Homo sapiens: one gene and its partners. The protein of the gene in region 4 purifies or fractionates together with the protein of the main gene of each other region. This does not show direct contact. Each region holds a gene or a part of one and is shown on either strand. Other genes may lie near its edges.

Region 1 (3,520 bases), on a different chromosome or scaffold from region 4:
TAAATAAATAAGAAGTATAGGCATTCTCATACATAACCTCAGTAAATACCATTAAGAAAATAATTTTAGACATGGTGCAGTTGCTCATGCCTATAATCCCAGCACTTTGGGAGGCTGAGGTGGGAGGATGGCTTGAGCCTAGGAGTTTGAGACCAGCCTGGGCAATATAGTGGCAACTCTTCTCTACAAAAACCTTTAAAAATTAGCCAAGTGTGGTAGTATGCACCTGTTGTTGCAGCAACTCGGGAGCCTGAGATGAGAAGATTGCTTGAGCCAGGGAGGCCGAGGTTGCAGTGAGCCCAGATAGTTCCACTGCACTCTGGGGGACAGAGTAAGACCCTGTCTCAAAAAAAAAAAAAAAAAAAAGAAAGAGAGGAAATAATTTTTTAATATGATCTAACACCCAGCCTACTTACAAATTTCCCACAATAGTTCCAAGACTATTTTTATAACCTTTTTTTTCTTTTTACAGGATCCAATCAAGGTTCACGTATTGCATTTGGTTATTATTTCTCTTTAGTCTGTAAAAATCAAAAGCAGTTCTTTCGAAGGTTTTTTTTTATGACATTGACTTTTTAAAAGACTAGGCCAGTTGCCATGTGCAATGTCCAGCATTCTGGATTTATCTGGTTCTTTCCTTATGGTGTGGTTTAATTCCTCCATCGGTACTTTTTCAGTTATAACATACTTCAGAGTATTCCTTTCCTTTATATTTTTTATAAACTGGAAGTTAGATCTAAAGTCTTGACTAGATTCATTCAAGTCAAACATTTTTGGCACAAACACTTCATAGGTAATGTTGTGTGATTCATATAGTGCCATGCCAGAAAGCACATGCCACTTTGCCCCGTCTGCTGATGACGCTGGATTTGGTCACTTAGTTAAGATAACCACTGGATCTCTTCCTTATGAAGGTATGTCAGGAAGTAATCCATTCATTGGTGCTTTGGCACCATGGGTACTATCTCATCCCCCAAAACTTTTCACCTAATAGTTTTAGCATCTATTGATGATCCTTGTGCTATTATAATGGCAGTCGCAAAATGATTTTCTAATTCTGTTATCCCTCTTCTACTTATTTGCTGATTAATCTTACAGAAGGTTATTCTTCTGTAATCCCCAGACAATTTTAGGTATCTAGTACATATGCAATAATTTTTAGACAGTTTCAGGAGGTTTAGAGACCATCAAACCCCAGCATGGAGCCTGGGTGATGAGGTGTCCTGTTTTGCATGGAAGAAGAGCTGTAGCTGAGCTCTTCATAGTCCTTTTATTGTTCTTATTTTGCAAGTAAATTGCAAAATAAGTTCCCAACCCAAAGATAACACAGGCTATCCTTCAACAAAGAAAAACCTCAGCTTTTAAACTTCTAGGCCATTTGGCAAAGAGGCATGATAAAGGGCTTGAAAGCCCACAGACACGCCCAGTACCACTCCTTTTTCCTCTTTCCAAACACTTGCAGTATGTTACAACTGAAAAACTGCTGAGCCAGGCTTATTTCCTCAACAGTAAAGCCAAGGAGTTGGACCAGGCAATTCCTAGCATTTCTTTCTTTTTTTTTTTTTGAGATGGAGTCTCACTCTGTCACCCAGGCTGGAGTGCAATGGCACGATCTCGGCTCACTGCAACCTCTGCCTCCCGGGTTGAGGTGATTGATTCTCCTGCCTCAGCCTCCTGAGTAGCTGGGACTACAGGTGCATGCTACCACACCTGGATAATTTTTGTATTTTTAGTAGAGATGGGGTTTCACCGTGTTAGCCAGGATGGTCTCAATCTCCTGACATTGTGATTCACCTGCCTCGGCCTCCCAAAGTGTTGGGATTACAGGTGTGAGCCACCGTGCCCGGCCAATTCCTAGCATTTCTACCAGCATTACTAACATGTAGGAACTTGATATTACTTTCACTTGACAGTTAAATTCCTTGAATCCTTCATTTGAGCTTTGAAGGTGCTTGATTTTCCCCTCATTATGTCTCTTAAAGTCACACATACCTAGATCCATTAGTGCTTCCAGTTGGAATTTATTATCAGCACTATAAGAATCTCTTATATTTATGTAGTCCTTTTACGTTATAAAACACTTTTTATGTATTATTGTACTAGACCCTCAATGAGTGGACGTTATATCCCTGTTTTGTTTACTCTTGGGTCTTATAGACTGGGGGTTTTATTTCTGTCCCATTAATGTCACTACTGACAGAGGCCACTGAACTCTGTTGTGATGGACTTTCACCATACATAATCATTAATAGTATTGATTTGCCTGTAATTCAGGTTGCTTCATTCCAGCCTCGCAGTCACCTCTGTGCCCTGCTGGTTGTCTTCCCAGCGCTGCTGTAGTTGCCTTCCATGGATCTATAGGAGAGCAAGTCCTCCAGGTACTGCCCTGTGACGATGTTGTTGAACTCTGTAGCACGTGTGTCACTGTGGCTGGTTCTGCTCACTTCCTCTTTTGCTGCCACTTTTGAATTTAACTCTTTGTTTGTGGTTTGGACACTCACTGGATTTGGAAACCAGGGGTTGTGGGTTCTCTCCTAGATTTCCGTCTGTGTACCAGGCTTGTGCTTAGCACTTTTCCCATAATTCTTTCACATGACCTGCTTAGAAACCCTTAAAGGTAAGTATCACTCTTCCCATTTTACAGATGGATACACTGAGGCTCAGTACTTAAGTGACTTCTGTATTGTCACACAGAGTCAGGGGCAGGAGGCTGCTCTTGGGTTAGATGTGCTGAGGCTCATAACCTCAGCCTGGAACTGGGTCAGGACTACAAAGGTAAACAGAAGCAGAGTCCTTTCTGTGTGTCCCCGCTCCCTGTACAAGCCAAGGCCTCACAGCACATAGCAGCCACAGCCACCTGAGGATTCCTGCCATCTAGACGAGGCAGTTACAGCCAAGAACAAGTCCACTGAGGCTAAGCTGTGCTCCTCTGGAGGGCTGTGTTTAGAGTCCAGCCTTCTAGGGGAAGCAAATTAAACCCAAACTATAGAACAGCCCAGGGAAATACTCACAAAGGGAAATGCTGACAGTCAGACTCCTGAAGCTTCCTGATGCTTCTCGAGTTTTGGTAAAGAACCTCAGTGCTGTTTGTTTGTTTGTTTTTTAATGTTTTCTGGTTTTTTGTTTGTTTTGAGACAGTCTCTTATTCTGTTGCCCAGTCTGGAGTGTAGTAGTACAATCATGGCTCACTGTAGCCTCCACCTCCCAGATTCAAGTAATCCTTCTGCCACAGCCTCCTCAGTAGCTGAGACTACAGATGCATGCTACTACACTGGGGTATTTTAAAAAATTTTTAAATTTTTTTAGTTGAGACAGGGTCTCACTATGTTGCTGAGGCTGGTTTCAAACTCCTCGGTTCAAGTGATCCTCCTGCCTCAGCCACCCAAAGTGTTGGATTTACAGGGTGAGCCATGTCACATTGCCCTCTCTTAGTTCTTGAAACCTGAAACCTTGAGGAGCAAACAAAAGGGGTCTCTTGGCCAGGTGCAGTGGCTCACGCCTGTAATCCCAGCACTTTGGG
Region 2 (3,520 bases), on a different chromosome or scaffold from region 4:
TGTTTATTGCGGCACTATTCACAATAGCAAAGACTTGGAACCAACCCAAATGTCCAACAATGATAGACTGGATTAAGAAAATGTGGCACATATACACCATGGAATACTATGCAGCCATAAAAAAATGATGAGTTCATGTCCTTTGCAGGGACATGGATGAAATTGGAAATCATCATTCTCAGTAAACTATTGCAAGGACAAAAAACCAAACACCACATGTTCTCACTCATAGGTAGGAATTGAACAATGAGAACACATGGACACAGGAAGGGGAACATCACACTCTGGGGACTGTTGTGGGATGGGGGGAGGGGAGAGGGATAGCGTTAGGAGATATACCTAATGCTAAATGACGAGTTAATGGGTGCAGCACACCAGCATGGCACATGTATACATATGTAACTAACCTGCACATTGTGCACATGTACCCTAAAACTTAAAGTATAATAATAATTTTAAAAAAAAGAAAAATAAAAGATATGCGAGCCCTTATTTCTGCAGTTAGCATGTTGAGCCAAATTAATAAATCTTCTCAATGTTCAGTCAAGCAATTTTTTCTTTTTATCACTTTAATATAAGGACCATGGAATAAAGTCTTAAGCTAAGCCAAAAGATGGTTAAAGATAGGACGTATTTTTACCCACAAATAAGGTGAATACCGACAGTGTAAGGTGCTCTTCCTCAGGCCATGCCGTTTGCTGTCGTGTTTTCTGCTTGCTGGTTTCTGGTGCGTGTGTATTTGCCTCCTTAAGGGAGTAGCCTTTTGCTCTTTATCCCATGTGTCAAATATCAAAACTCACTGACATTGACCAATCATTATCAAAAGTGGATGTTTAAAATAGATCAGGAGGTAGCATACCACTTACAGGTATTTTTGGTTTTAATGTATTGAAATGCTAGTAGCTTAAACTGCATTGTAAGCAAGGCTTTGAGTAGGGGACACATTCTAACAACTTTCTTAGCAGGTCCTTTAAACTTGCTTTTTGGACTCCTGTCACTTGAATACCGTAATAAAAAAAGATAACTACTTGCATATACTATTTTATTTAAGGACAATGGCCTAGAAGATCACAGTTTAATTTATTTTCTTTTCTTTCCATCTATATTTTCTGTTAGATATTAAGGCTAAGACATACTGCATTTGTAATACCAAAGAAAAACGTTCCTACCTCAAAACGTGAAACTTACACAGAGGATTTTATTAAAAAGCAGATTGAAGAGTTCAACATAGGAAAGAGACATTTAGCCAACATGATGGGAGAAGATCCAGAAACTTTCACTCAAGAAGATATTGACGTAAGTACAGTTACTCTGTTGAAAAAGTAATTGCTGTAGAGTTTTAGATATTAAAAGCACTTTTCTTCATGAGCCCCTTAGCTCTGTGTTTTAATCAAGCTGTCAGAATAAGGAAAAATGCTGCTATACATTGTTTAAGTTGGAGCCATGGTTTCAAAGACAAATGTGCAGGATTTACTTAGTATGGTGAGTTTTAGGTGTTACCTAGAAATGAGTCTATAAATGCTCATACACTATTGGGAAATGTTTAACCTGTTGTGTAGTCTTAGACTCAGCTTTCTTACAAAATGATATAACAGATGGTAATGAAAATAGAGTCAAATTTATATCAAGTCCCATAAGTAAACCTTGGCCCAGTGTTTTTGTCAACTTAAATATATATCTGAGGTTTCAAAATGGGGGCGTAGTCTAAGTGATTTGAAAATTAGGATCAGAATTCTATTCACTCTTGAATTATTATATTCCTGATAAAAGCAGTAATTGTCGATAATATTTTTGCTAGACATCCTAGAGTAGCTAGCAAAGGAAGTTGAATTTAACAACTTTGAATCTTGTCCTTATTTTTAAAAAGTAACATCTAATATCCCATGATGTTTTATATTTAATCGAAGAACAACATCTTTGTATAGATAATAACATTCTTATACGATTTTAATATTATTTTTAGTCATTTTATGCACTTTAGTTTAATTTCAATCTTTCTGTATACTTTTCCTATTTATAAATGGTACTGTAGTATCACTTTCAGACCAACATTTTTTATTCAACCAGAAGGATTTTTTTCTTTTCTTTTCTTTTCTTTTTTTTGAGACAGAGTCTTGCTCTGTTGCCCAGGCTAGAGTGCAGTGGCACGATCTTGGCTCACAGCAACCTCTGCCTACTGGCTTCAAGCAGTTCTCCTGCCTCAGCCTCCTGAGTAGCTGGGCTTACAGGCACGCACCACCATACCCAGATAATTTTTGTATTTTTAGTACAGATGGGGTTTTACCATGTTGGTCAGGCTGGTCTTGAACTCCTGACCTCTGGCGATCCACCCATCTCAGCCTCCCAAATTGCTGGGATTACAGGCGTTAGCCACCCGGCCCGGTCCAGAAGGATTTCTTATTGCTCTTCTATGTTAGGTGATTTGTAATTAGGGACTTTGTAGCTGCTGTCCTCTTTTTGAGTTTTATGGTAATCTGGACAGTATTGGGGGATATTTTCCATAAAGAGATGCTATTCTTCAGTTAAGTATAAAATACCATGAGATGTTAGATATTACATTTTAAAAATTAGAACAAGATTCAAAGTTGTTAAATTTAAGCTCCTTTGCTAGCTATCCTGGGGCATTTAGCAAAAAAAATTATTGACCATTATTGCTTTTGTCAGGAATGTAATAATTGAAGAGTGCAACAGGAATAGAATTCAGGTCCTAATTTTCAAATCACCTAGAACATAGACTCTCTAGACTCTAAGTTTGCCTACCCCGGACTTTCATATAAGTAGAGTCATACAGTATTTGGTCTTTAGTGACTGACTTGTTTCACTTAGCACAATGTTTTCATGTTTATCTACATTGTGGCATGTGTCAGTACTTCCTTTTTATTACTGAATAGTTTTCGATTGTATGGATATACCACATTTTAAGAATTCAGTCATCAGTTGATGGGCATTTGGATTTCCATTTTTAGTTCTGATGAATAATACTGCTAAGAATGTGCATGCTATAAAGTTCTTGTGTAGACATATGTTTTTATTTCTCTTATGTGTATACCTTAGAAACCATTGCTAATCCAAGGTCATGAAAATTCACCCTTATATTTTCTTCTTCTAGTTTTGTAGTTTTAGCTCTTACATTTAGGTCTTTGATCCATTTTAACGTAATTTTTGTGTGTGATGTGAGGCAGGGATGTAGCTTTGTTCTTTTACATATGGACATTCAGTTGTTCCGGCATCATTTGTTGGAAAGACTATTTTTTCCCATTGAATTATTTTATCACTTATATTGAATATCAGTGTAACTATGAGGGCTTATTTCTGGACCTTATTTTATTCCATTGATCTATACATTTATCCTTATGCCAGTACCACTTTGTCTTGATTACTGTAGCTTTATAGTAAGTTTTGAAATTGGGAAGTGTAAGTAGTCTTCTTTCCTTCTTGCTTTTAAAGACTATTTTGGTTGTTCTTTGCTCCTCGAATTTTCATATGAAATTTTAGGATCAGCTTGTCAGTTCCTGCAAGG
Region 3 (3,520 bases), on a different chromosome or scaffold from region 4:
ATATAAATATATAATAAACAATATAATAAATATATAAATATGTTATTAAAATATATTTATTGCAGATTTTAAAAATCAGGTTAAGGAAGTGCCTTTCTATTCCTAGTTTGCTAATTCTTAATTTTGACTCATGAATGGATGTTTTAATCAAATGCTATTTCTTCATTGAGGTAATCATGTTTTTTTCCCTCAAATCTGATGGTGGAAAAATTATACTGGATGATTTTGTAGTGTAAAAACACCCTTGCATTCCTGGGATAGACCCAAATTGATCATTATGTATTGTTCTCTTTATACATTTCTGATTTTTTAATATTTTATTTAGGATTTTTGTATTAATGCTCTTGAGTGAGATTGACATGTAATTTATTGAATTCTGTGTGCCAGGTAGGTAAAGAATCTAACCAAGTCAAGGATAAGACATACAAGGTACTTATCCCATGAAGCCTTTAGGTCATGATGGAAATAAACACGATGATGAGATGGAAAACAGCTTGCAGCATATAGGGGGCTACTTAAGAAAGAGTGGCATAGGAGGGGGGCCGGGGGCGCCCTCTGAGGAAGTGAAGTTTATACCTGAAGTATGAAAAGGGGTGGCTAGGCAGAGAGAAGGTGAGAGATCCTTCTGGGCTGAAGGAGCAGCAGGTGCCTAGCCCTGAGGTTGGAGAGACGTTGGAATGTTTGAGTTACACGAAGCTGGCTGCCATGTTGAGAGGCCGGTGGTTTGAGATGTAGCTGGAGAGATGAGCCCAGCATGCTGGGATTGCACATGAGGCAGGGATTTGCAAATTGTTCCTAGGATACTGGGAAGCCATGGAAGGGTTTTACTATTATAATTAGTAGAGAAAGATAATGAGTTCTTGTTTAAAATCTAAACACTTGAACAAAACCCCGTAATCCTTCATATTTGTATTCTCTGAATGGTTGGTCCTTGTCCCCACTCCATTTAAAGGTTCACTGGCTACTTCATTGTTAAGATTTTTATCCTAAAGTTCAAGTAATCATATTCATTGGCTGTCTTTCTGTATTTTAATTAAATATCTAGTACCTGGATTATTAGGGTATGTTGTCAGATGGTAGAGTGTAATTTGAATGAAGTGTAGGTAATCTTTTATCTCTGGAGAGGGAAATATTCCTAAAATGTGGCAGATGTTGGAAGAGTAGATACTAATGAAGTCTTGGTGTACAGACTTAAATTATCCCTATATCCCAACAAAAGCTTTTTAAACAATTCGCCTTTTTATTTTGAGATAATTGTAGATTTCCATGCACTTGTAAGAAATAATAGAGATTTTTCGTGTACTTTTTACCCAGTTTCCCTCAATGATAACACTTTGAGGAACTATAATATGTAATAACCTGGGTATTGACATTGATATAGTCAAGATACAGATCAGTTCTGTCACCTTAAGGATCCTTGATGTTGCCTTGAAATTTTTCTCTTGTCCTAACATTTTGTGATGTTATATTTACATTTCACATTTAAGTGTGATCCATTTTGAGTTATTTCTGTAAGGCGTGAAGTTTAGGTCAAGGTGTATTTATTTGTTTTGCCTGTGGATATCCATTTGCTCCAGCATCATTTTTTGAAAATGCCTTTTTTTTTCCTCTGTTGCATTGCGTTTGTCAAAAATTATTTGGGCATATTTGTGTGGGTCTGTTACTGGGTTCTATTCTCTTCATCTATGTATCTTTCTGCCATTCTCACACTGCCTTGATGATTGTAGCTGTATTGTAGGTTTTAGTATCAATCAGGTAGAGTGATTACTCCCACTTTATTCTTTTTCAAGATCATTTTTAGCTATTCTAGGGCCTCTGCCATCCCATATACATTTTAGAATAAGCTTGTCTAGGTCTACAAAAAACCTTGTTGGGATTTTAATTGGAGTTTCAGTAAGCCTGTAAGTCAGTTTAGGGAGAATTTACTTCTTGACTATGTTGAGTTTTTCAATCCATGAACATGAAGTGTCTCTTTTTTTAGGTCTTTGATTTCTTTCCTCAGCATTTTGTAATTTTCAGCATACAGATTTTGTAAACTTTTTAAATATACACCTAATTATTTAGGTTTTTTGGAGTGATTGTAAATGGTGCTATGTCTTTAAATTTGGTTTCCACATGTTCTTTTGTTTTTTTTTTTGTTTTTGTATGTTTATCTTATATTCTGTGACCTTGCTCAGTTCACTATTTTTGGAGTTTTTTTTTTTTTTAATTGGTTCCTTAAGATTGTCTACTTAGCCATATCATCTACAAATCAGGACAGTTTTATTTTTCCGAGCTGTATAGCTTTTATTTCTTTTCCTTGTCTTATTGAACAGGCTAGAACTTATAGGACTTTGTTGGAAAAGAGTGGTGAGAGCAGACATCCTTGCCTTGTTCTTGATTTTAGGAGGAAAGTGTTCAATCTTTTACCATTAGGAATGATGTTAAGGTAACCCTATATCCCAACTTATGGGATAGATTTTTTATAGATGCTCTTTATCAGGTTGAGGTTGTTTCCCTCTATTCCTAACATGCTGAGTGTTTTAACCATGAATCGTTGTTGGATTTTGTCACATGCATTTTCTGCATCTATTGATACCATGAGTTTTCTTTAGCCTTTTGATACACTGGATTACAGTAATTGATTTTTAAATGTTGAATTAGCCTTGCAAACCTGGAATAAATACCACTTGGTCATGGTGTATAATTCTTCTTATACACTGAATTTAGTTCTTTAAATTTTCCTCCGTACTGTTTTAGTAGCATCCTACTTATTTTGATTTGTTGCAATTTCATTTTCATTCACTTTTTTTAATTTGTAAATTTTCTTGGAGACTTCCTCTTTGACCTGCAGATTATTTAGAAGTGTATTACTTAATTTTCACGTGTTCAGAGATTTTCTTACTGTTAGTGGTTTCTAATTTGATTCCATTGTGGTCACAAAACATACTCTGCATGGTTTTCATTTCTCTTAAATTGTTGAGGTTTGTTTTATGGCCAAGGATATGGCTTCAGTGAATGTTCCGTAAGTACTTGAGAAAAATACATATTCTGTATTGTTGGGTGGGCTGTTCTCTATATAAATTAGGTCATGTTCGTTGACGGCGTTATTGAGTTCTTCTATAACCCTGTTCTGCCTAGTTTAAAAAAAAATTAAACAATTTCCTTTCTTTTTAAAAACTTAAAAATTTTTTAATTTGCTTTTGTCTAATTTTCTTTTTCTTTTATTCATCTTCTTTTTGACCAGGTTCAACATATTCAAGTGTCTAGTAGTTTTATCAGTTGCTGAAAAGGGAGATGTTGAAGTTGCCAAATGTAATTGCTGCTGTGTCTCTTTGAGCTCTGTAATAGTTTTTGCTTCATGAATTTTCAAGCGCTCTTTGGTTCCTACACATTTAGGATTGTTATGTCTTCCTGGTAGATTGATCTATTTATTATTATGTGTCATTATATAATCCTTTTTATCTCTAGTAATTTTCTTTGCTCTGAAGTGTACGTTATGTGATATTAATATGTCCGCTTCAACTTTTTAATTAATGCT
Region 4 (2,536 bases):
TAGCAGAGCCTAGAACAGAATTCCAGCCAAGTTTTCCCCACCTGGTGGCCTTTTCTAGCTCGCAGCTCCTCAGACAATATGCGCTAAGTGGCCATCCCACACAGATCTTCCCAAGCTCATCTGCAGGAGGTGACTTCCAACTAGAAGCTCCAAGATGCTCTAGTGAAAAAGGAGAAAGTGGAGAGACAGAAGGCCCCGACAGCTCATTAAGAAAGAGGCCAAGCAGAATTTCTAGGACATTCTTCAGCCCACATCAAGGTGACCCAGTAGAATGGGTAGAAGGGAACAGAGAAGGAGGAACAGACCTTCGCCTGGCCCAAAGGATGAGTCTTGGGGGGTCAGACACAATGTTGAAGGGAGCAGACACTTCAGAATCTGGAGCAGTCATACGTGGAAACTATAGACTGGGACTTAGCAAAAAGTCAAGCCTGTTCAGCCACCAGAAGCATCATGTGTGCCCTGAATGCGGGAGAGGCTTTTGCCAGAGATCAGACCTTATCAAGCACCAGAGGACACACACCGGGGAGAAGCCATACCTGTGTCCTGAGTGTGGGCGTCGGTTTAGCCAGAAGGCCTCCCTCTCCATACACCAGAGGAAGCACTCGGGGGAGAAGCCGTATGTGTGCAGGGAATGTGGGCGACACTTCAGGTATACATCCTCTCTCACTAATCACAAGAGGATTCACTCCGGGGAGAGGCCCTTTGTATGTCAGGAGTGTGGGCGAGGCTTTCGCCAGAAGATAGCCCTCCTTCTACACCAGAGGACGCACTTGGAGGAGAAGCCCTTCGTGTGTCCTGAGTGTGGGAGAGGCTTTTGCCAGAAGGCATCACTCCTCCAGCACCAGAGCTCACACACAGGGGAGAGGCCCTTCCTGTGCCTTGAGTGTGGGCGTAGCTTCAGGCAGCAGTCACTCCTCCTTAGTCACCAGGTCACACACTCAGGAGAGAAGCCTTATGTCTGTGCTGAGTGTGGGCACAGCTTTCGCCAAAAGGTCACTCTCATCAGGCACCAGAGGACACACACAGGGGAGAAGCCTTACCTGTGCCCCCAGTGTGGGCGGGGTTTTAGCCAGAAGGTCACCCTCATTGGACACCAGAGGACACACACAGGGGAGAAGCCCTACCTGTGCCCTGATTGTGGGCGTGGCTTTGGTCAGAAGGTCACCCTCATCAGACACCAGAGGACACACACAGGGGAGAAGCCTTATCTGTGCCCCAAGTGTGGGCGTGCATTTGGCTTTAAGTCGCTCCTCACCCGACACCAGAGGACACACTCAGAGGAGGAGCTTTACGTAGACAGGGTGTGTGGACAAGGACTTGGCCAGAAGTCACACCTTATCTCTGACCAAAGGACACACTCAGGAGAGAAGCCCTGCATTTGCGATGAATGTGGGCGCGGCTTTGGCTTTAAGTCTGCCCTCATCCGACATCAGCGGACCCATTCTGGGGAGAAGCCGTATGTCTGCAGGGAGTGTGGGCGTGGCTTTAGCCAGAAGTCTCACTTGCATAGACACAGGAGGACCAAGTCTGGTCATCAGCTCCTACCCCAAGAGGTCTTCTGACCTTTCCTTTCCCCGTGAGTGTGAAGCTGGCAGAAATCACTAGTAAATGCTTCAGTTTCCTGAAATGGAATGGAAAAAAAAAAATGTTGCTTTCTTTCATCGATCATGAGATAGTTGATTTTTGGTTTACTTTCTATATTCACAATTTGTCTTGGCTTGCTAGGGGTTCCATAACAAAGTACCCCAGGCTGGGTGATTTTGACAACGGAAATATATTTTCATATTTATGGAGGCTGGAAGTCCCAGATGAACGTATTGGTAGGTTTGGCTGCTGCTTAAGCCTCTCTGTTTGGCTTGCGGATGGCTGCTTTCTGGCCACGTCCTCACGTGGGCTTTTTTCTGTGTGTATGCTTTCCTGGTGTGGCTTCCTCCTCTTCTAGGGACACCAGTCATTTTGGATAGAGCCACAGCCACATGGCCTCGTTTAACCTTAATAACCTTCCTAAAGGCCTTATCTCTAGATACAGTCACACTACACAGTTAGGACTTCAACATATGAATTTCTGGGAAACCCAATTTAGTCTATAACACTCCACTACCAAAGTTCAGGTCCCTCAGACATTCAAAATACATTCACATGATCCCAACAGTCCCAAAATTCTTTACCCATTTCAACTTCACCTCTAGATCCAAAATCTCATTTAAATATCATCTAAATCAAGTGTGAATGAGACTTTAGGTACAATTCATCCTTAGGCAAAATTCTCCAGGTGTGATCCTGTGAAACCAGACAGATATCTGCTTCCACAATATTCTACAATGGTGGGACAAGCAGAGGCTGGACTTCCCCATTCCAAAGGAAAGACATGAGAAAGAAATGAAGAATGATGGATCCCAAGCAAGTCTCAAACCTGGCAAGGCAACTTCCATTAGATTTTAAGTCTCGAGAATAATCCCCTTTGGCTCAGTGCTCTGCCTTCTGGGCCAACTGGATTGGCAGCCCTGCTTTTTAGGCTCACGGGAGCTGCAGTGTC
Region 5 (3,520 bases), on a different chromosome or scaffold from region 4:
ACTTTATTCACTGCTGATGTCTGATAGTTGGATAAAAACTTCAGTAGATGTAACTTCAAATTAAGAATTAAGAAGGAATTATATTTATCTAAAAGCATGGATTTCTGTATAGTCCTATGAATATCGAATTTTTTGAATGAATGAGTGAAATACATGGATTATGTACATTCTGTTTTTCTACATTTTATTTTATGACATGTTGTTTTATTTTGGCATACTATATGTGTTCTTTCTGCATGACATTTTCTTTCACATAGTCCCCCATTACATTTTGTTTTATAAGATTACTAAAATAAGAATTTCTGCTTTTGCATAAAACCGTATTTTAAGATGACTTCACAAGATAACATAAAATTCAAACTAGATTAGTTACATTTAGCAGTCTAAGTAGAAAAAATAGAAAGTTATGATGCATTCATGTCTATATTCATAAATTAAATATGTATTTACCACAAAATTTCTAATTACCTGGTGCTAAAGGAGTAATAGTGAATGAAAATAGAGGAGTGATCACTGTCCTTGTTGAGCTTACAGTCTAGTGGGGGCAAAAAATATTTATAATAAATGATAATGTAAGGAAATACAAGTGGAAATTTGCCATTCTAATCTGTGTTGTGAAGCAGAGCACATGGTACAGGGAAGACACAGAAGGCTTCTGGAAAGAAATAGTTGAGATATGAAAAGTAGGAAGTAATTAGGCAAACAGATTGGAGAAGAGCATTTGAGACAGGAAATAGCAGGCACAAAAGGTATTTTGGTAGGATGTTGAGTGCATCCTATGATTTGTATGACTGGTTAACTATTTTTTTACGATAAAAATTATTTTATCGGAACCATAAGCACACTGTATATTAACTTCCGAAATGTATTATTTTTATTCTAGTGTGAATGCTACTGCTGTTATTAGTAATGTCTTTTTGCATAGCTCTGCATACTACAAATAAATGTACATAAACACTACAAATTAACAATTTAATTTCAGCCTCTTGTTCTGGACTGAATGGGGACAAATGCCCTGTATTGGAAAGGCTCGCTTGGATGGCTCAGAGAAGGTTGTCCTTGTAAGCATGGGAATAGCATGGCCGAATGGCATCTCCATCGACTATGAGGTCTGTTGGATTTCTTTTCAGTATTTAAAGTGCCTTAACTGACAACTTTAATTTACCTACTTTTAGTGTTCCTTTATTTTCTTAATAAAACAATCAAATATAGTCTGTAACGTTACTTCTTAATCGATATTTAGGAAAATAAATTGTACTGGTGTGATGCTCGCACAGACAAGATAGAGAGAATCGACCTTGAGACTGGAGGGAATCGCGAGATGGTGCTGTCAGGAAGCAATGTGGATATGTTTTCAGTTGCAGTCTTTGGGGCTTACATCTACTGGTCTGACAGGTAATTTATTTTTTCATAAGTATTTGAGTCTCAAAATGTTATTTCAGTGCCAGTTGCTTTACCCTTGTAGGATTTACCATTTCTTAGCAAGGTCACAAAAAGGAACTCACAAAGCCAGTAATTTCCACAGAAAAGGCAGGTACTCTTGCTATTCCAAGCTGAAGCATTTCAATGTCACAGACTAAAGTTGGTTTCTTTCCCTTCTGTTGGTCCATCTGTTATCTTCAGCTTAAGTAACTGGCTTGACTTTAATTAGTCGAAGATTGTTGATCATGTATGTTCAACTTTTTGGCAGAGCACATGCAAACGGGTCTGTCAGAAGGGGCCACAAGAATGATGCCACAGAAACGATAACCATGAGAACCGGCCTTGGAGTCAACCTGAAGGAGGTTAAAATATTTAACCGAGTAAGAGAGAAAGGTCAGCACTCTTGAAAGAATACATAATATGTATATTTTATGTGATTTCTCTCCAATTTTTAAAAACATTGTCAAACTTAGAAATTCTTCTATAAGTCTAAAACCTCAAAACATTATCTTTACATCTAATTTCCTGCAAGTATCATATAGTAGCCTAATACAATAAATATGTCATATTTCATACAAAAGCGTATTTGCCCAGGACAGCACAGGTACATGGACATGTTACATACCTGGCATGTCTTGATTATAGGTTTTGGCTAAGGAATATAGAAAAACTTGAAACATGTATTGATTGGATAAAAAATTAAAAGCATAAGTAGGATATTAATAAAAGGCAGTTGAAATTTTTATACATAATATGAATCATATTATATAATAAGTGGTTATGATCCCAAAGGTGATGCTGTTAATGTAAAATATTTCCAAAGTCATTACTTCCTTAAAATATTTATTCTAAACTTACAGGACAATGATTTGGGTATTTAAAATTTGTTTACCTCCATTAAAATAAATTGTAACTAACTTTTTTGTATCAAAGGAAGTTATAATAATGTTGGAGATAATAATAATGAATTCACAAAGGAGAATTAGACTGGTGAAGAAATTTTAAGTGCATTTTTTATCTTCACTTAAAATTGGAGTAAGAACTTATGCTCAGCATATTTAGGAGGTTAGGCACATTGTAGCTATAGATTTCTTTGATGCTTTCCATATCTCAAAGATAGAGTTTAAAGCAGTGCATTATTTCTGGTGAGATCAATTCATGTTTTAAATGAACAATATATGAAACACTATAAGTATCAAGTTTCAAAAAAGATTTATATACTTAACTGGTTCATTAAGGGAAAAATTTAATGCTTAACTTGGATGGTGAATGAAACAGACTATGATTTTCCAAATAAAGAAACCCAAGATTTAAACTGCTGTGATTTTTTAAAAAACAATACTTTTTTAATTTTTTATTGACCAGCTTAAAATTAAGAGCAAAAAGAGAATATTCAACATCAAAGTTTTAATATTTCTTTATGGAGAATTTTGTTTCAAAAACAAAAGAAAAACATAAACATGTGCATGTGTGTATCATTTTTCTTCATTAGGGACCAATGTTTGTGCCAGGGACAATGGTGGCTGTAAGCAACTCTGTCTTTATCGAGGAAATTCCCGGAGAACTTGTGCTTGTGCCCATGGATATTTGGCAGAAGATGGAGTTACTTGCCTGAGGCATGAAGGCTATTTACTGTATTCAGGAAGAACAATATTAAAAAGTATACATCTTTCTGATGAAACCAATTTAAATTCCCCAATAAGGCCATATGAGAATCCACGTTATTTCAAGAATGTCATAGCCTTGGCTTTTGACTATAATCAAAGAAGAAAAGGTACCAACCGAATCTTTTACAGTGATGCACACTTTGGAAATATACAGCTTATTAAAGACAACTGGGAAGACAGACAAGTAATTGTTGAAAGTAAGTACAGTAATTCAATTTTAAATAGGTGGAAATGAGTATCATTTAGATTACTAGAGAAATAATAGTGGTAATTGCATGTAGCAATTACATTTTCCTAGATTTTATATTCAGGAATGAATGTGACTATATCATCTAACCCTCACCCCCCACCCCCCCGCCAAATGTCAAAGAAGCAATTAATTGCTAGCATGTACAGCAAATTATGATTATTACCTTCTAATCATGGAAGGT
Region 6 (3,520 bases), on a different chromosome or scaffold from region 4:
TATTGACAATTTTTTATCAGGATTGTTTTTGAATAAGTAGTGAACTGAAGTCTGTACCTCCATCCTAGAGACTCGTGCAAAGAAGTCTTAATTCTTCTTTCTCATGAAAACTCATCAGTGGAGAACACTTGTCAGAGTGGTCTGCATGTCTTCTCACCACCTCCCCCATCCTTGTATCTTTTCACCTCTAGGAAAATATCCCTGGATCCTTTATCCATTCCTCTTGACCATCCTGGTTGCTCTCATGGGAACATTATCCAGTTTCTCTACCTATATCTCAAAGTGTGGTTGTTTATGTTAGGAGGAAGGAGAAGAGGGAGGGGGTCGAGGTCAAGAGGTGACCCATGACCACATGCCTGGGTCTGAAGTGGGGCGTATGAAGCTTCCTTGCTCAGGTCACAATGCTCATATCACCTTTAACATAACTTTGTTACTTGTGTGTACACTCTCTTTATTTCCTCAGGGCTTAGTTTCAGGAAGGGACTATTATCATCCTTGCTTTAAAATTAAACTATAAACAAAATTCCTTCCATAGTTAGCTTGGCCTACGTGCAGAGATAGGCAGAGGCCGTTAACCTACAAGATGTCACCATGGGCAGGGGGCAGGGTGCGGGGAGCAGAATGGAGCCACTCATGTTCAGCCTCCTTTTGTCTGTTATAATTTCCCCATTTTCAAAGCCAGTGATGTTGCATGTCTCTCACCTGTCTTCTGTATTCTCTCTGTCTCTCACCACAACCAGAAAAGGGTCTCTGCTTTTAAGGACCCATGTCATTAGACAGAGCCCACCTGGATAATCCAGGCTGAACTCTCCTACCTATGGGTCCTTAATCTAATCACACCTGCAAAGTTGCTTTGTTACATAAGGTAACATATTACAGGTTCCAGGGATTAGGATGTGGACGTCTTTGACTTGGAGGAGCAAGATTGATTTTAGACCCTCATCACTGGTGGGATTGGATTTCTGATGTAGCCCTTCCTTGTCCAGGACTGGGCAGGCAGGTGTGAATCTGTATAAGGAAGGCCTCAAGTTACTGTTCCTGGGCTCAACCAGCTACATAGCAGATTTGTACCACCCAGGTACACAGCCTGCATAGCAGATTTGCTGTCTACAGCCATTCTCACCTTTTCTCTTTTCAGGAGCATTTGCAATTATACGGTCATTGCTTTCTTTTTGGAGCCTCCCGTGCAGTTTTAATCTACTTTCAGAACTGGAGAGCACATCACATTTTGGTCAATAGCCTAGACATACAGTTGCATAACCCTTAACTTACCAGTGCTCATTATTTGCATTATTTCATTTTCTGTTCAAGTACTTTGAAAAGCCAAACAACTTTAAATACTACATAAAGTATGCATGCCTCTTAATATTGTTGGGATTCATCTCATTGTTATTTCTGTTACTCAAACCAGAAATCAGCTCCTCTTTCTAGATTGCAAACTAATAATAGTAGCAGAATAATTAATAGTACTATAGAGTAATAGCTACAGTTTGTTGATGCCGGCCAGGAGCCAGGCAGTGTTCCAGGTGTGTGATCTCATTAGATCCTTGCAGACATGATAGTGATGGAATTGTTACTTCCATTTTTTATAGGGCAACTGAACTCAGGTGATATTAAGCTGTTTGCTCAAGCTCATGCAGATCTAGGATTTAAACTCTAGTTTGTTTGACTCCAAAGTGCTCACTCTTCCCGAATGCAGATTCCAGTTGTTAATGTTAGATGAGATGGCACCTTAGTGCCGGTATAGATTCCACCACTGGTCATTCCAGAGGTGTGTTTTGAAGCAGAAGCCAATTAGTACTTTGCCTAAATGGGAATAAACTTGGGCCCAGCCTTTAGTACCATACGGCCCCTCCCCGTGGACTTAAGAAGCCTCTCTGTGTTTCAGCCACACACAGCACCTTGACTTGCATGAGCAGGGAGTTCCAGTGCGAGGACGGGGAGGCCTGCATTGTGCTCTCGGAGCGCTGCGACGGCTTCCTGGACTGCTCGGACGAGAGCGATGAAAAGGCCTGCAGTGGTGAGTGCCGGTCCACGGGCTGGGCTGGGCTGGGCTGGGCTGGGAGGCTCGCTTACCCCAGGGCCCCTCCTGTGTAGACCTTGAGCTAGGACCCTTTTGAACTGTTGCTCAATCTAAGGATAAAACAGATTTGTGCCTAGTTTTGGAGCCCCAAGTGAGGTGAGCCTTGGCCAGACTCTGATACAACATGCAGCTGTCTCCTCCCTGTTAGTGAAATGCTAGTCTTGGATTTTTTTTTTTTTATGGACTTCCCACCTCATGCCCATACACCATGGCTCTCACAGTCTCAATCTGCTGGTGGGATTAACTCAGTTCTTATCTCTGGAGTGTCTAGTAATGGACCCTATGACATGGTCCTTGGACTTGTAGCATTCTCTATGGAGAAATAGGCTTAAATTGTCATAGGCAGGAGGAAGATGAAATTCGAGGGAAAATATCACGACCGGAAAAGTAGGAGACCCTAGGAGGGATTGTATAGGGAGGTTTCAACTACATTTTCTGAGATTTCTTTTCAGATAATGATTATGGCCTCCTGATAATCTAGATCATGGTAGTTCTGTTTAAAAGCAGGAGTCCTTTGAAATCTAAGGATTTGTAAGATGTAACTTTTTTTTTTTTGTATTTTTAGTAGAGACGGGGTTTAGCCACATTGCCCAGGCCAGTCTCGAACTCCTGAGCTCAGGCAATTTGCCCGCCTCGGCCTCCCAAAGTGCTAGGATTACAGGCGTGAGCCACCACGCCCAGCCAAGATGTAACTTTGTTTGTCTTTTTCTCCTTTATCTCTCTAGATGAGTTGACTGTGTACAAAGTACAGAATCTTCAGTGGACAGCTGACTTCTCTGGGGATGTGACTTTGACCTGGATGAGGCCCAAAAAAATGCCCTCTGCTTCTTGTGTATATAATGTCTACTACAGGTAGGTCCCATCTTTGTCATGGGAGATGAAAATGATGTCTTCATTGCCCCAGGATGTTCTGTAAACTCTCTAGTGGCATGCACCATGCTATTAACGGAGTCAGACATCTCAGCCCCCCATGCTGCTCCAGTGTGACAATATCTTTATTTTTTTTTGGGCCAGGGTGGTTGGAGAGAGCATATGGAAGACTCTGGAGACCCACAGCAATAAGACAAACACTGTATTAAAAGTCTTGAAACCAGATACCACGTATCAGGTTAAAGTACAGGTTCAGTGTCTCAGCAAGGCACACAACACCAATGACTTTGTGACCCTGAGGACCCCAGAGGGATGTAAGTGTTTCAGTTAATTTTTATGGCATGGGTAAGACCTCAGGTCGGGGTTTGTGAGGGTCTTTCTGAGTATTCTCAGGAATGTGGGAACATATGTGTGCCTCACATGTACAGAAGTATGGTGGCTAAGCTTTATAGTCTTGCCAGAGTTGTCAAACATCTGTTCTTCTTACTGCATCAGAGACTGTTCTTGTACCTTAAGTTAATTTAAGATTCTCTCCACCATTGCCCTCTTGCATTTTTTGTCTAGTTT
Region 7 (3,520 bases), on a different chromosome or scaffold from region 4:
TGATCTCGGCTCACTGCAACCTCTGCCTCCCGGGTTCAAGTGATTCTCCTGGCTCAGCCTCCCTAGTAGCTGGGACTATAGGCGTGCACCACCACGCCCATCTAATTTTTGTACTTTTAGTAGAGATGAGGATTTACCATGTTGGCCAGGCTGGTCTTGAACTCCTGACCTCAGGTGATCTGCCCACTTTGGCCTCCCAAAGTATTGGGATTACAGGCCTGAGCCATTGTGCCCCGGCCTACTGTCTTGATTACTATAACTTTATATGAAGTCTTGAAATTGGGTAATGTGACTTCTTCAACTGTTATTCTGTTTCATAATTGTTTTGGTTATTCTAGGTTCTTTGTATTTCCATATAAATCATAAAAGCAACTTGTCAATATCTACAAAAAGGACTACTGGTATTTTAGTTGGGATTGCATTAAATCTGTAGGTCAGTTTGAGGAAAATTGCCGTTTAATAACGTTGAGTCTCATGTTGTTTTAAAAAATAGAGGCGAGGTCTCACTATGTTGTCCAGGCTGGTCTCGTAGTCCTGGGCTCAAGCAACCCTTGAGCCTCAGACTCCCAAAGTGTTGGGATTACAGGCATTAGCCACCACGCCTGGCGCTAGTCTCCTGATTCTTGAATCCTGTATATCTCTGCATTTATTTAGATCTTTACTTTCTCTCAGCATATTTTGTCATGTAGCTGGGACTACAGGCGCCTGCCACCACGCCTGGCTAATTTTTGTAATTTTAGTAGAGATGGGGTTTCACCATATTGTTCAGGCTGGTCTCTACTCCTGACCTCGGGTGATTCACCTGCCTCAGCCTCACAAAGTGCTGGGATTACAGGCGTGAGCCACTGCGCCTGGCCAACACCTGGAACATTTAATTGAACATTTGTTGTTATTGTCTTAAACACTGGATGCCCCAAAAACCCTGTGGTTAAAAATGAATGGTGAAAAAATATGAATGGTGAAACCTGTTTGGTAACATCTTTATTTTCAGGTTGCTGGAGGAGCCAGTATGAGTCAGATTTCAGAAGCACTGAGCCGATACAGGAACAGATCATGTTTTGTGAAGGAAGCCCTCCACAGGCTGTTCACAGAGACATTTTCAATGGAGGTAACCATGCCTGCTATTTTAAAGGTAATTGAAGGAAGACAATTTTTACTATTACTTCTTAACTTGGTTCAATTAATAATTGTTCACGAACCACACTGAATATAATAAATTATATGCTTTATTCTATAGTGAGTCAAGTGCTCTCATAGAGCAAAGAATGTTAAGCTTAGCTGCCAAAGTGTCTTTTGCTTTGAGCATCTGGATTTATGTGGAATAAATTAGAATCAAAACAGTTAAAATTTGGTCTAAGTAAGGGAATAATAGGATCATGTGGCTTTCTGAAAGAAAACAAGTGCAGAACAAAATAAAAATAATTAAGGGTGGCCAAATCTACCACTTGAAGTATTTTGTGAATGACATAAAGTTGCTTTTATCGATATAGCCAAACTTAGCTTTGGTTTAGGGAAGGATGCGTTTTATTGTAAATGTAATTACAAGTATTAAGAGGCTTGGGAAAGAAAACTTCAGTTATTTATTTTTCTTTTATACATGTGTTTATTTGAAAATTGTTGTTTTTAGTGAAACATAACAATGAAAGGTCTTAAGAAAAACCTTGTCTTTATTTGTAATTTTTTGCAATTCCTTAAAAATGTGGATATTTTCCCAGCACTTTGGGAGGCCGAAGCGGGTGGATCACGAGGTCAAGAGATTGAGACCATCCTGGCCAACATGGTGAAACCCCGTCTCCACTAAAAACAATACAAAAATTTGGTGGGCGTGGTGGCGCACTCCTATAGTCCCAGCTACTTGGGAGACTGAGGCAGGAGAATCGCTGGAACTCGGGAGGTGGAGGTTGCAGTGAGCCGAGATTGTGCCATTGCACTCCCTCCTGGTGACAGAGCGAGACTCAAAAAAAAATATTTTTACAGCATGGGAGATTAACTTTATTTACAGCTCAAAAGCTGTATAAAGAAAAACTCTGGGTCAGCTGTGGTGGCTCATGCCTGTAATCCCACCACTTTGGTTGGGAGGCCGAGATGGGAGGATTTCCTGGGGCCAGGAGTTCAAGACTAGCCTGATCAACATTAGTAAGACCCTGTCTCTACAAAAATTTAGAAAAAGAAAAAAAATTAGCTTCTGGCTGGGCACCATGGCTCACGCCTGTAATCCCAGCACTTTTTGGGAGGCTGAGGTGGACAGATCACCTGAGGTCAGGAATTTGAACAGCCTGGCCAACATGGTAGAACCCCGTCTCTACTAAAAATACAAAAATTAGCCAGGCGTGGTGGCAGGTGCCTGTAATCCCAGCTACTCAGGAGGCTGAGGCAGGAGAATCACTTGAACCTGGGAGGTGGAGGTTGCAGTGAGCCGAGATGATACCACTGCACTCCAGCCTGGGCGACAGAGCAAGACTCTGTCTCAAAAAACAAAAAAAAAGTTAGGTGGGCATGGTTGTACATGCCTATAGTCCCAGCTACTTGGGTGACTGAGATTGGAGGACTACGTGAGCCCAGGATTTTTTTTTGGTTTTTTTTTTTTTTTGAGACGGCGTCTCGCTCTGTCGCCTAGGCTGGAGTGCGGTGGCTTGATCTCCGCTCACTGCAGGCTCCACCTCCCGGGTTCACACCATTCTCCTGCCTCAGCCTCCCAAGTAGCTGGGACTACAGGCGCCCGTCACCACGCCCAGCTACTTTTTTGTATTTTTTAGTAGAGATGGGGTTTCACCGTGTTAGCCAGGATGGTCTCGATTTCCTGACCTCGTGATCCGCCCGCATTGGCCTCCCAAAGTGCTGGGATTACAGGCGTGAGCCACTGCGCCCGGCAAGCCCAGGAGTTTGAGGCTGCTACAGTAAGCTATGATGGTGCCACTATACTCCAGCCTGGGTAACAGAGCGAGATCCCAACTCAAAAAAATAAAATAAATTAAAAATTCTCGACCTTTTTTTCCATCTGTAAGGAAGAGATTGAATTAGATGTTCTTCTGTTTTTGTTTGTTTTTGTTGTTCTTTGAGACAGGGTCTCACTCTGTTGCCCAGGCTGGAGTGCAGTGGCATGATATGATCTCAGCCAACTGCAGCCTTGACCTCCTGGGCTCAAGTGATCCTCCTGCCTCAGCCTCCTGAGTAGCTGGAACTATAGGCATGCCCCACCATGCCTGGCTGTTTTTTTTGTTTTTTCTGTAAAGATGAGGTCTTACTGTGTTGCCTAGGCTGAATTTAGATGTTCTAAATTTCTTTTCATACCAGGATTGTGTAGTTTTTGTGAAAATCACATTTCTTTTGGTTTCTGGATTTCTAAATTGCAGATGATGGCAATCTAATGAAACTGAAAAATCAATTTAGCAATATACAAAAAAAAAGTCATTTTCCATAGCAGAAGTATATCCCAGGTCTGTCTCTAGTAGAGGAAACAGATCACAGTGTCCTTGAATGACAGAGCAGGTGGGGTCTAAGCTTGGAACAATGCCCTCAT

The links.
Region 1: the proteins of ZNF169 (region 4) and TRIM26 purify together in Homo sapiens (affinity purification with mass spectrometry; 2 studies listed by BioGRID and IntAct, with this or other methods). This does not show direct contact.
Region 2: the proteins of ZNF169 (region 4) and MRPS9 purify together in Homo sapiens (affinity purification with mass spectrometry; 2 studies listed by BioGRID and IntAct, with this or other methods). This does not show direct contact.
Region 3: the proteins of ZNF169 (region 4) and SART3 purify together in Homo sapiens (affinity purification with mass spectrometry; 2 studies listed by BioGRID and IntAct, with this or other methods). This does not show direct contact.
Region 5: the proteins of ZNF169 (region 4) and LRP1B purify together in Homo sapiens (affinity purification with mass spectrometry; 2 studies listed by BioGRID and IntAct, with this or other methods). This does not show direct contact.
Region 6: the proteins of ZNF169 (region 4) and SORL1 purify together in Homo sapiens (affinity purification with mass spectrometry; 2 studies listed by BioGRID and IntAct, with this or other methods). This does not show direct contact.
Region 7: the proteins of ZNF169 (region 4) and ZYG11A purify together in Homo sapiens (affinity purification with mass spectrometry; 2 studies listed by BioGRID and IntAct, with this or other methods). This does not show direct contact.

What each region holds. Positions count from the first base shown.
Region 1 is NC_000006.12:30,199,893-30,203,412, reverse strand, and holds part of TRIM26 (tripartite motif-containing protein 26), read left to right. Parts: intron 1-2,274; 5' UTR 2,275-2,378; intron 2,379-3,520.
Region 2 is NC_000002.12:105,048,055-105,051,574, forward strand, and holds part of MRPS9 (small ribosomal subunit protein uS9m), read left to right. Parts: intron 1-1,116; coding exon 1,117-1,296; intron 1,297-3,520.
Region 3 is NC_000012.12:108,551,160-108,554,679, reverse strand, and holds part of SART3 (spliceosome associated factor 3, U4/U6 recycling protein), read left to right. Parts: intron 1-3,520. UniProt on the Homo sapiens protein: U6 snRNP-binding protein that functions as a recycling factor of the splicing machinery. Promotes the initial reassembly of U4 and U6 snRNPs following their ejection from the spliceosome during its maturation.
Region 4 is NC_000009.12:94,299,809-94,302,344, forward strand, and holds the end of ZNF169 (zinc finger protein 169), read left to right. Parts: exon of another isoform or gene 1-3; coding exon of another isoform or gene 4-6; coding exon 7-1,562; 3' UTR 1,563-2,021; downstream 2,022-2,536. UniProt on the Homo sapiens protein: May be involved in transcriptional regulation.
Region 5 is NC_000002.12:140,700,016-140,703,535, reverse strand, and holds part of LRP1B (low-density lipoprotein receptor-related protein 1B precursor), read left to right. Parts: intron 1-982; coding exon 983-1,109; intron 1,110-1,243; coding exon 1,244-1,395; intron 1,396-1,690; coding exon 1,691-1,815; intron 1,816-2,914; coding exon 2,915-3,286; intron 3,287-3,520. UniProt on the Homo sapiens protein: Potential cell surface proteins that bind and internalize ligands in the process of receptor-mediated endocytosis.
Region 6 is NC_000011.10:121,602,305-121,605,824, forward strand, and holds part of SORL1 (sortilin-related receptor preproprotein), read left to right. Parts: intron 1-1,888; coding exon 1,889-2,020; intron 2,021-2,808; coding exon 2,809-2,935; intron 2,936-3,097; coding exon 3,098-3,267; intron 3,268-3,520. UniProt on the Homo sapiens protein: Sorting receptor that directs several proteins to their correct location within the cell. Along with AP-1 complex, involved Golgi apparatus - endosome sorting.
Region 7 is NC_000001.11:52,859,740-52,863,259, forward strand, and holds part of ZYG11A (protein zyg-11 homolog A), read left to right. Parts: intron 1-991; coding exon 992-1,132; intron 1,133-3,520. UniProt on the Homo sapiens protein: Probably acts as a target recruitment subunit in an E3 ubiquitin ligase complex ZYGA-CUL2-elongin BC.